Linked DNA regions of Homo sapiens. The protein of the gene in region 3 interacts with the protein of the main gene of each other region in a pairwise test. Each region holds a gene or a part of one and is shown on either strand. Other genes may lie near its edges.

Evidence for each region.
Region 1: the proteins of WHR1 (region 3) and SP3 interact in a two-hybrid assay, tested with the Homo sapiens proteins (one study listed by BioGRID and IntAct).
Region 2: the proteins of WHR1 (region 3) and MAB21L3 interact in a two-hybrid assay, tested with the Homo sapiens proteins (one large-scale study listed by BioGRID).

What each region holds. Positions count from the first base shown.
Region 1 is NC_000002.12:173,962,574-173,966,589, reverse strand, and holds the start of SP3 (transcription factor Sp3), read left to right. Parts: upstream 1-1,216; 5' UTR 1,217-1,418; coding exon 1,419-1,425; intron 1,426-2,036; coding exon 2,037-2,185; intron 2,186-2,706; coding exon 2,707-2,829; intron 2,830-4,016. UniProt on the Homo sapiens protein: Transcriptional factor that can act as an activator or repressor depending on isoform and/or post-translational modifications. Binds to GT and GC boxes promoter elements. Competes with SP1 for the GC-box promoters.
Region 2 is NC_000001.11:116,114,201-116,117,921, reverse strand, and holds part of MAB21L3 (protein mab-21-like 3), read right to left. Parts: intron 1-3,721.
Region 3 is NC_000006.12:31,978,538-31,982,050, forward strand, and holds the end of WHR1 (winged helix repair factor 1), read left to right. Parts: intron 1-365; coding exon 366-461; coding exon of another isoform or gene 462-473; intron 474-876; coding exon 877-1,016; intron 1,017-1,913; coding exon 1,914-2,011; intron 2,012-2,116; coding exon 2,117-2,264; intron 2,265-2,466; coding exon 2,467-2,512; 3' UTR 2,513-2,909; downstream 2,910-3,513. UniProt on the Homo sapiens protein: DNA-binding protein which is required for efficient transcription-coupled nucleotide excision repair (TC-NER). Acts as part of a TC-NER complex which assembles and interacts with RNA polymerase II (RNAPII) when it stalls at DNA lesions.

The DNA.
Region 1 (4,016 bases), on a different chromosome or scaffold from region 3:
AAAACAGGTATTGTGGACAGTGTTTCCACCTCTTGAATTTAACTTCTTTCTTGGCAACTATACTTGAAGGTAACAGGGAGAGATGTCTCTTAGTTGGCAAAACACACACTTAAAACCTGAGCATTTTCCCCCAGGATGACAGCAAGATACCAAGGATGCCAAAGAAGGAAGGAGTGTTAACCTAATCCAGTAAGAGAAACAAGATTTTAAAATACAACAAAAATGTTCCAATGGGGGAAAAAAGGTAGTTCACCGGTTCACGACTTTAAAAAACGTTGGCAGTGGTTGATGGGCTTATTTCAGGAGATATCTGACTTGGTACCAAGAGGATAAAGAGGCCGGGAATAATACGTTTGTGCAGCAAAATGGTTATGTGACCGATTTTTTAAAACACAGAATTCTGCCCCACTGAATACATACACATACCACAAGTAAAATGAAATATACTTTTAAGTGCCCGTTTTGGTGCCACTGGCCAAAATTAAAACTCTCCTTCCGTATGTGAGGTGACTTGAGATTTCTTTTTTGCTTTAAATGCCTGCCTTCAGGGTACGTGAAAGTGGGAGACCGGTTGGAAAACTGGGGCTAAGGGGGCTGGGAGCGAGATGGCTGTGACTGAATCAGGAAGCTGGATGTGAGAGAGAAAAATCCTCCTCCAGCCTCGGAGGGGGTGTCTCCCCTAATACCAGCTCCCTCCCCCCGGGCTCGTGGGGCGGGTCTGGTTTGCTCAGTAGCGGCAGCGGCCGCAGCAGCAGCCCCGGGGCTGAGCAGCGGTGGCCTCCTGGCAGCGCAGGGAAGCGGCGGCTCCAAGAGCGCGAGGCCCTGGGGAGATCCGGCCAAGACTGCTGCCGGGATGGAGGAAGCGTCCAGTGGAGCAGGAGTCACCGGGGACGAATTTCCTCCCCAGCTCAGCTCCCCTACAGCTTGGCTAGGCCTGCTCCGAGCGCCTGCAAGGTGGAGGAGGCCTGCGCCTCGGGCCTGGCAGCGGCAGCCGGCGAGGGAGGCGGGCACAGCGGGGTAACCGGCGAGCCGTAGCCGCTCTCGAAAACCTACGCTGCCACGGCCGCTCATTGTCTCTCCCCTTCCACCCGGGGGCAAACAGGAAGCGCGCCGCCTGGCAGACCGACGGACAGGCGCCTGGACCAATGAGCACAGCCGACAAAGAGCACGGCGGCGAATGAGAGCCAAGAAGAGGGGCGGGAGTTCCGGGCGGGCTGTCACCCTCTTCCCCCCTTTTGGGCTGGAGGCTCCACCTTTTGTGTTTCCCGCACAGTCAATCAAAATAGGAAAAAAAAATCCCCGGACCGCTCCGGCCGTGTCCGCCGCCGCTTCCCGCATCCTCTCCCGCCGCCGCCGCCTTCGCTCCTCACCATGTGTAAGGCGGCGGGGAGCCCCGCCTGAGGTGCCCTAAACACACTATGACCGGTACGTAAAGCCGAGAGAGCAACCCTTGCTGCTGCCGCCGCCGCCGCTGCCGCCGACCACAGCCAGCCCGGGGCCGCTGCCGCCGGTCTCGGCCCCGTGTGTGCGACCGAGTGTCTGTGAGAGGCAGAAAGCTGCACTCCCCTGCGCCTCCCTCCCCTCCCCGCCAGCCACCGTCCACCCCCGAAGCCCCAGCAACGCCGTCTCCCCGCCAGGCCCCGGGGCGGGCGGCCCGGTCCGCCGGGAGCGCATCCCCCTGTGTGCGGGCGCGGGCGGGCGTGTGTGAGTGACTGACGGTGCGAGAGGAGCGAGCGCGAGTGAGAGCGAGCGGCGCGAAGGGAAAGGGGAGGAGAGGAGAGGGGGCAGGGGCAGCGCGGGGAGGAGGAGGAGGAGGGAAAGAGGAGGAGGAGGAGGGTTACAGGCAGCGGCGGGCGGGGGCAGCAGCAGGAGGGGAGGAGGGAGCCGCCGCCGCCGCCGCCGCCGGGGGGCGGGTGGGGGAGGGGAAGGGGCCTGGGTCCGGGCTTTGGGAGTAATTTCGCTTCGGCCCGCGGGCCCCCTCCCTCTCCGCCACCCGCCTTCCTCCCCACCCCCACCCCCCCGCGCTGTGCCTGCAGCTCCCGAAAAGCCCGTGAAACAAGAGGAAATGGCTGCCTTGGACGTGGATAGCGGCGGCGGCGGTGGCGGCGGCGGCGGCCACGGCGAGTATCTGCAGCAGCAGCAACAGCACGGAAACGGTGCGGTGGCGGCGGCAGCGGCGGCCCAGGTGAGGAGCGGCTGAACCCCGGCCCGGCTCCCCCCTCGCGCCGCTTTCTCCTCCCCTCGCCTCTCCCCTCCCTCCTCGCCTCACCCCTCCCTCCTCGTCTCTCCCCTCCCCTCCACTCCCCTCCCCCCGCCCCGGGAGCTGCCCGCCCGAGGCGCCAACGCTCCGACCCCGCCCGCGCCGCCCCGCCTCGCCCGCCTGCCGCCTTTTTGTGCGCGTGTGAGTGTGGGCCCCAGCGTGCCCTCCCGGGGGTGGGTTCCGGGCGGAAGGCGGAGGCCCGGCGCGCAGCCCGCCGCCCGCCTGCCCGCGGACCGGGGAGCCGGGGTGCTTGGAGCGGGGGACGCCAGGCGTGGGCTGGCGGCGGGACCAGGAGGAGGAGGAGGAGGAGGAGGAGAGCGCGGGCTGGCGCTTGCCCGGGCGCAGTCGGCGGGGACCGAGTCGTACTTCCTGTGCGAAAGGCGGCCCGACCCTAACCGCCACCCCCTCCCCCTGTCTCCCTCTCTGAACCCGCCCATTGGGGGTAGGACACTCAGCCGTCACCGCTCGCTCTGCTGGCCGCTACCTGCAGCAAGATAGGGCCGCCATCGCCGGGCGACGACGAGGAGGAGGCGGCCGCCGCAGCCGGGGCCCCCGCCGCCGCCGGAGCGGTAAGTCCCGCGCGCGGCCCGCCCCCGCCGAGGCCGGGCGCCCGCCATCCCGGACCCGTGGCGCGCCTGCCCAAAAGGCCTCCCCGGCGCCCGCGCTTCCCCCGACCCGCACGGGCCGCTGGGCTCCAGGGCGCCCTTTCCTGCTCTTTCGCATCCCGGTTTGGATCTGAAGCCAGCCCAGGCTTTCTCGAAATTGTCACTGCAGCACCTCGCGCAAAATCTTCACAAAATGAAGTCTGAGAGGGCGGGGGTAGAGGACTCCAAAATGGATGTTTGAGCAATTCATATCAGTGCTGAAAACTCCTTCGCTTAACACTACAAAATTTTCAAGCACAGCCTATCGGCCATAGATAGTATCAACTAGAGGCAATGTCTTTAGTTTTTATTATTTTTGAACCTGGAGCATTTTCTGTTGGACGTTACAGGATCTTACTGCTTTAAATCATACATTATTAAAAAAAATGAGGGTTTATTCTTTGAATTACCCTTTTGTATGCAGGAGTGAAGACTGCTTTTTTAGTTGACCATTCAAAATCGTTGAATTTTAGTTTTTGCAGACTACTAAAATTTGCAGTGACTTTTTTTTTGTAAGGGGGGTAAATGAAACATTTAGCAGCCTTTGAAATCAGCAAGTTGCTTAGATAGTACTTTAGATTTTGAAACTGAATATAACAGTGTTAGAAAAGTATGTGTAAGGAATTGTATTTACGTGCATACTAGTAGTACAATACTTATAGCTGAATTTGGTTGGCAAAAGTATGTTTTCATTTTATTACGACTGCTAGTCAGGTAAGATATGGTGGGATTCTTTCTGTAGTGTTTTCAGTGTCTGGGCAAGGGGAGGAGCTCGCCTGTGTTATATGAGGGGTTAATACCAATAGGATAGGAACAGTTTTTAGACTGTTAATTGTGAATTTTACATTTGGGTCATCACTGTTGTGTAGATTTGTTCACCTATTAAAATAATGAAAACCCTCATTTGAGTGTGTGTGTGTGGTGGATCATAGGAATTGATTTGTGGAGTGATACTTTCAATAGTCACTGAAGACAGAAGTTTGGTATTTGGTATAGTCTACAACAAATGCTTAGTATGTCCAGGTATTTTTTTTTTTTAAGTTAAACCAATGTTAAGCTATTACTGGTAAATAATTTGTAATTTTAGTGCTTCGTTATAGGGGATGTGAATA
Region 2 (3,721 bases), on a different chromosome or scaffold from region 3:
ATGCACATCCAGAGGCCTGAGTGAGGAATTCATCTTGGTGTGGCAGAAAGAAAGAAGGGGAAAAGGGTGCATGCAGATACAGATAAAAGGGTAGGGGGCAGTGAAAATCAGAGAGATTTCCAGTCTGACGTCTATGTTCTTTATAGAGTGGGAGATGTTAATGAGCTAAGAGTGAAGTGGAAGGCAAGAGATTTCAGGCGATAGACTGCTGAGATAGCTGCTATAAGGAATGAGAGACTGTTTAGGTGCATGAGTAAAGATAACCAGACAGTGTCAAGACTTGGCTGAGGCTGAGTCCCTGAGGCTGTGGGATATCAGTAAGTTCAGTTAGTGAGATCTGCTCCACCACCTCTTAGCCCTCCAAAGGTAAGAGTTGAGGTGCTAAGATTGGAGTTTGCTGGGCAAGAGATGGATAAAGATAAAAAAGCAACAGAGGGTTTCAGCAGTGGGCTATATCTTCCAGCCGGAATAAAGAACGGATAAAGCTAGTGGTAGAATAGGGAACATTAGGCCACTTCAGGGACCTGAAGTCTGAGCAGGTACAGTGGAGAAAAGTAATAAAAGTGTTAATTAGATAGAACATTGCAGGCAGAGTGGTTGAGAAATAGTATTCTCTAATAGTTAAGTTCTCAGAACGTGTTGAAGGCCAAGACTAGCCTCCTGAATCTGCCAGCCCCACGGATGTAATTCCATAGAACTTGAATGTTAGTAACATAGCAGTGACTATACATATATATATATATATATATATATATATATGTATGTATATTTTGATTCCTGAGTTAATAAACTAATGAAAAATTCATCACCATCAAATCATTTTTAAATAGAAGCTTAAGAGTGTGTGTGCATGTGTGTATGTATGTACATGTGTGTATGTATGCACATAACACACGTGAAGAGTAGCCTATTGGAAAAAGTACTTCATTGTAAATCTATTCTACAAATTGTGCCCTCATTTGATGGTGAAATTCTTACCGAGCAGGACAAGATCACGCACTCCTGGAAAACAACTATAATCTCTCACTTGTTACACAGGTTATTAGTTCACCCTTATGACCTGTTTTGATTACCAAAGGTGAAAGTCAGAATAAGATAATGCTTTTTGAGACCTAGAACCACAAATTCCAGTTTTAATTTTCTTCCTCCATCACTTCTGCTGCAACTTAGATTCAGGATCTTAGAAATGGAAGAGACCTCAGAAATTGCCTCGTCTGGTGTGACTTTATGGAGGACCAGAGTGACAAGGCAGCTTTCCTAACATCACACCGGCAGTTAGATGTAGAATTAGACAGGCTCTCCAACACTTCTTTCCATCACACTTTGCCACACCCTTAAGTACTGATGTACCAGAAGTACGGCCTACCCTTTATCCTCTTCCTGAACCTAAAAATGCCTTCAATTTAAAGTCAAGACTCATGAAATAAGGAGTCCTAGGTCTCCATGTATTTAGGCATCAGCAACTGTTCTGGCATCTAACAAGCACAAAGGGTCATGCAGCAAGGGCCAGACAGTGATGCTCCTGCTGTGGGACCTGAGCAGAAGCCTCTTTCTCTAGGTGGCGGGCAGCCTTGTCCCTCCCCACATCTCTGGCTACACTTCCTGCAATAAGTTCTTACCCACACAGCATCACCGTGCTATTTGGTAGCCCCAGAAGTGATTTGTGCTGGGGGTTTCCAGGCTTAGTGCCAGACACCTCTTGTCACCCTCATGGTGTGACAACACAGAACCCCCAGACTGTTTCTCTCCACTTATTCTGGCCACACCCTAGACAGATACAGCAAGAAGTTCATTTCAGGGTGTGGAAAAGCAGGCAGTGGGGTTGGGGCAGCTGTACAGTGATCTAAAGAAGGAGGCTCTAACACAAGTAGACACCCATTGCAAGCCCAACCCTGGAAATCCTTTACTGCCTCTCAAACTTTAGGAAGCCAGCAAGATACCAGTTGCAGCTTCAAGGCAGCCTTGAGGCAACCTTGTCACCAAACTTAGTTCATGGCAAAACATGGAAACAAATGTTGTTTGGGCCTTGCTCTTCCCAGGCATGTCTCCATGCTGTCAAGGTCCTTGTCCCATCTTGGGCTGCTTTCCCCTCCTCCTCCTTAACCACAGCATCAGGTTCATTGTTGCCCCACAAGTCATTTGCTGCTATTAATAGCTCAAGTTCATGAATAATTTACTGCTTCAAATATAAATTATGGGGATTTAAGGTTATCCCCTATAATAATATCACTCTGACTCACTTGCATTCCGATACGCTTCCTTGCAATGGAGACAGAGTGGTGGTGCTAAGTAGCATGCCAGGAATGTCACACAGGCCTGATCACACCCATGACCATGCAGACTATGTGTATGTCATTCCCAATGAGTGTTACTGAGAAGAAAAGGCTGAGGACTTCCTTCCAGAAAACAAGAAGTCAGACCTTTAATTCCAGAATTGCATGAAATCCAATCATCAGTTAGAAAAATTTCAACAAAACAAAAACTGGCATCATCTCTGTCTTTCAGGGGCTAATAATGTAAAGAAATGGAAAGTTAAATCCAGTGATAGATACGCACGAGACCATAGGCTTTCCACCATCATATCCCTTCCTTTGTAGACTAATTCTTCCATGAATCAAATGCTTGGGTCACGCAGAATATTTGCAGCCCCCAAATGTAGCAGAAGCTGTAGCAGCAGCATTACCGTGAAACTAAGATTATTTAGTCCTTCCTGTGTGCAAGGCATTTTATAAGAGTAGGCTCATTCCTGCCTACCCATCATTCTTTAAGGTGGATGCTATGATTATCCCCATTTTATAGATGAGGAAACCAAAGTTCAGAATATTTAAGTAATTTGCCCAGGTTCCCAAAGTTAGTAAGTTACAGAACACAGGTAGCAGCCTTCCAAAGCCCATATTTGTAACCACTGCCCTGTTCTGCTCCCCAAAAGAAAAAGGTGACTGGGAATGAAATACACCTTGAATGTTTGAACGGGGTTCCCTTAGCCTGGAAGACCTTTCCTATACTTCTCCACTTATTAAAACCCTACACTTCCTCCAAGGCTTTGTCTCTACTCTTCTTTCTGTAAGACACCTTTCCCATCACAACTAATGCACCGTGCTCCTCCAGCAATCTGTTGAAATCTCTACTGCATCCCTTACGGTCTACCATGCATTCTATTAAGCACTTGCCTGACTGCATGTGAAATTCCCTCCTTCTTCCTTTGGGGTTATGTACAAAATCTGCAGATGGGACAGGGCTATCCTAGAGACCAAAACCAAAATTTCTCTTTCATTTAGCAGGCCACATCTCAGGCCTTGGTCTACCCTCAAACCGTAGCACAGTATTTTGCACAAAGCAGGTGCTTAGTATGTGTTTGCAGAGATATAGAGGAGTTTGGCAGAGGACGTTCGGCCTTTGGAGTAAAGAAGACAAGGCTGAAACTTCAGTACCCTCTCAATTTAGCTGTGTAACTTTGGACAAGTTATTTAATCTCCACAAGCCTCTGTTTCCTCCTCTAAAAATGGAGGCAATATGTACATCACATAGTTGTTGATTAGGTTAAATGAGATCCTGTATGCACCTTGACCTGTCGCCTTCCACACCACTCTTGCCTTTAACGAACTCTAAAGATATTTCTGATCATATATGTGCAAGATACTCTGAATGTCAAAGGAAAGAAAGGTATGCAAGACACTGTTCTTCCCTCCAGAAACTTATAAAGAATGAAATGATATGACAT
Region 3 (3,513 bases):
TTTTATTTGTTTTAAACATTGAATCCCATACTCCTCCCCACCTTACCCTACCCAGAATTTAGACTGTTAATGTTTTGAAGCCACAGCCTGCATCTTAATCACTATTTTATCTTAGTGCCTGGTCTTAGAAATTATATTGACTCTTTGATAGACCATATATAAGGCAGGTGGATGAGAATGTGGGTAGCTAGTTGGAAAAGGCTGCTTGGTCATTTGCTTGATTATTTTCTCACACAGTTTTTCCTTTACTAAGAGAAAATGCCCCCATATTGGCAAACAAAATCTCCCTGCCTGAGAGCGCCCAGAGTATAGCAGAGCATCTTACCCTGATACGCCTCTTTTCACTCTCTTCTCTGTGGAGACAGAAGGAGCTTCAAGAGCAGGGGGAGATCAGAATCGTCCAGCTGGGCTTCGACTTGGATGCCCATGGAATTATCTTCACTGAGGACTACAGGACCAGAGTATGTGACTGTGTGCGTCAGGGGTGCTGGGGGGAGGGCACAGGTTGGGGGAGACAGGGAACTTGGGAAACAGAAATAAAAACAAAAGAAAGAATTTCCCTGCCCCCACATCCCATGGAGAGGGCACAGGGCCCTGGTAAATAGTAATATGAGGGAGAGAGACAGGAGGGAAAGAGGGAGGAGTGAGAGGGTAAAGAGGGGGGGAGAGGAGGGGGAGGAGGAGGAAGGAAGGAGGGGGAGGAGGAGGGGGGGAGGAAGAGGGGGAGGAGGATGAAGAGGAGGAGGAAGAAGAAGGGTATGAGAGGTGGAAGGATCTGAGCAAGAGGTAAGACAGGAAGAGAAATGCTGTCCTGGGGGTGGAGGTTGGTAGAGAGTGAGGGTGGGGATGGACCATGTCTCTCATCTCTGCTTGTAGGTCCTCAAGGCCTGTGATGGCCGACCGTATGCTGGGGCAGTGCAGAAATTTCTAGCTTCAGTACTTCCAGCCTGTGGGGACCTTAGTTTCCAGCAGGACCAAATGACACAGACCTTTGGCTTCAGGGACTCAGAAATCACGTGAGACTTGTGGAACCAACCAAAGTCAGGCATCTGGTGCTTCCCTGCCTCCCTCCAGTTCCATCCAGCCTGTCCTCCTGTTTTTTTGGTGAACCTGCCAGAAAAGCTGCCAAAAAGCTGACTCTTCTTGTTAATAAAATGACCCAAGTTTGTATTCCTCCCCACAAGAGAGGAGGCCTATCTTACCTGGGCCTTAGAAAGAGCCCTGAAATAGAATTCAGTTCTTGGTGGCTTATCAAAAGCACACAGGGGCCTGGCAGGAAGTGTAAAAGCTTGATGTTAATCATACTGGGACTAAGAGGATAGAGAATGGTAGGAGCTGGGATACCCCTAAACATTCACATTAAAACAAAAAAAACCCAAAGCTAAAAAACAACTGGGCAGGAGCTAAATAAAAATCTAATTTTGAGAGGCTGTATCTGGCTCAGGCCTCCTACTTTGTAACCCATGGAATATGTGAAAGCATTTGAAAAACTATAGCACTGATCTCACATGGGCAGACACACTCTCAGAGAGATGTGGTGGGAGCCATGGCGCAGTCTGCCTAGGCAGTGGCAGGAGCGCAGAAGACTCTGATTCCTCTCCTCGGTCCTAAGACCGAATGTGTGTCAGGACATGTGGTCAGGGAAGAGAAGCTATTTAACTGAACCAGTAATAGTAGCAGGAAAAGAAAAAGTGGAGGGAGGGCAGTCCAGGTAGGGGGCCTGGAACAAGCAACTGCACCAACAGAGGCAGTTGGTGCGAGCACAGAACCACCCCAGGCTGGGATTTTGTTATCCAGTCTCTCTTGCATGGTTGCCCGTGTTTCTGGAGACTTGTGTAAACATTAATGGATGAGGAGGAGAGATGGTTCTCAGAGCCCAGCCCTCATCTCTGCTGGCTTCCCACTGCCCTCAGGCATCTGGTGAATGCTGGAGTCCTCACCGTCCGAGATGCTGGGAGCTGGTGGCTAGCTGTGCCTGGAGCTGGGAGATTCATCAAGTACTTTGTTAAAGGTATCCCATCTGCAGCTCAAGCCTGCAGCCCCTCACCTTTTGGTGGCTCCTCAGGCCTCTAGGCCTTATTCACCTTTCCCCTTTCCTGTGCCACTTCTCCTCTAGGGCGCCAGGCTGTCCTTAGCATGGTCCGGAAGGCAAAGTACCGGGAACTGCTCCTATCAGAGCTCCTGGGCCGGCGGGCGCCTGTCGTGGTGCGGCTTGGCCTCACCTACCATGTGCACGACCTCATTGGGGCCCAGCTAGTGGACTGGTGAGTCTTTCCCTGGCCTCTGGCAGATTATGGAGCAATGACCCAAAGTGGGATTTCCTCCCAGCTCATGCTTAGTTTCCTAGTGAAGGCCAGTGGCTCTCATTCTTCTCTGGAACCCGGGAGCACCCCTTCCCAAGTTCTAAGTTCTCCTCACAGCTTGAGCCTAGGCGTCTGGCTCCAGCCTTGTCTTTCTCCTGCACAGCATCTCTACCACTTCAGGAACCCTCCTCCGCCTGCCAGAGACATGAAGATTCTGCTCATCATTGCTCAGCTCCTCAGAGTGGGCCGGGAGGGGACTAGAAGAGCTGCATGATGGTGGCTGAGACAGGGTCACCTTGGGAAGGCTTGGGAGCCAGGATGAGTGTCGGGCTCTCGTGTGTGCAAAAGGTCAGATGTGACTGCTGCTGTTTGCCTGGTTTCTGACCCAGTGGTGGGGTTTGAGCAATGCTTCTCTGCCCTTCCATGGAAAGTGGAACCAGAAATGGTGCCAAGGCTGTGGCTGTTCCCTTTCGTGTAAAATGGTGCTGTTATTACTCTGTCTTGAAATAGGAAGGTGGGATTTCTGGGGAGGCTGGTGAAGGAGGGCAGGGTTCTTTTCTCTACGTGTCATGTTAAAATTGCCAAATAAAGTACCTCTGCCTGTGATATTTTCTGGATGTCCTTTATTTACTGTGACGTGTGTTTGGGTGCCTTGTTTAGGGGTAGAGGTGAAGTCTGAGCTTTGCCTCATTCAGAGAGGAAAGGGGTCAGGGGTTCACTCTGACGTTCAGGCCATTCTCCCTGTGGAGTGGTGAGGGTGTACCTAATCTCCTAAACCACGGAATTTCTGTTAGGGCCTAAAAAAGCAAAAGCCTAGTATAGTTCAATTTGTGTTGGAATGAAAGTAAGAGACAAGTGTCTTAGAAGCCTGTCATTGTTTTGTGAGGGCCTTTAAATATCCTGTACTCGTGGGCCATGTTGGGCCCTTGTACGCCCAGGTATACATGAGCTTGTGTGCACCTATACCCTGATACAGATATACCTGGTAGGGGGAGGTGCTCAGGCACTGGAATGAGAGGAGTTAACGGGGAAGGACAGGGTTATTTCTGGGCCAAGATTCAGAGTTTCCCATGGACACCCAGGTGTCCGGGGTGCCCCCACAACTCTGGGCCTGAGGCCAGTTGCACTTCTTGGCTGTCACGTGGTTTCCCAGCTTAGCTGGGCTGGGGGAGGAGCAAGGTCCAGAGTCAACTCTGCCCCGAGGCCTAGC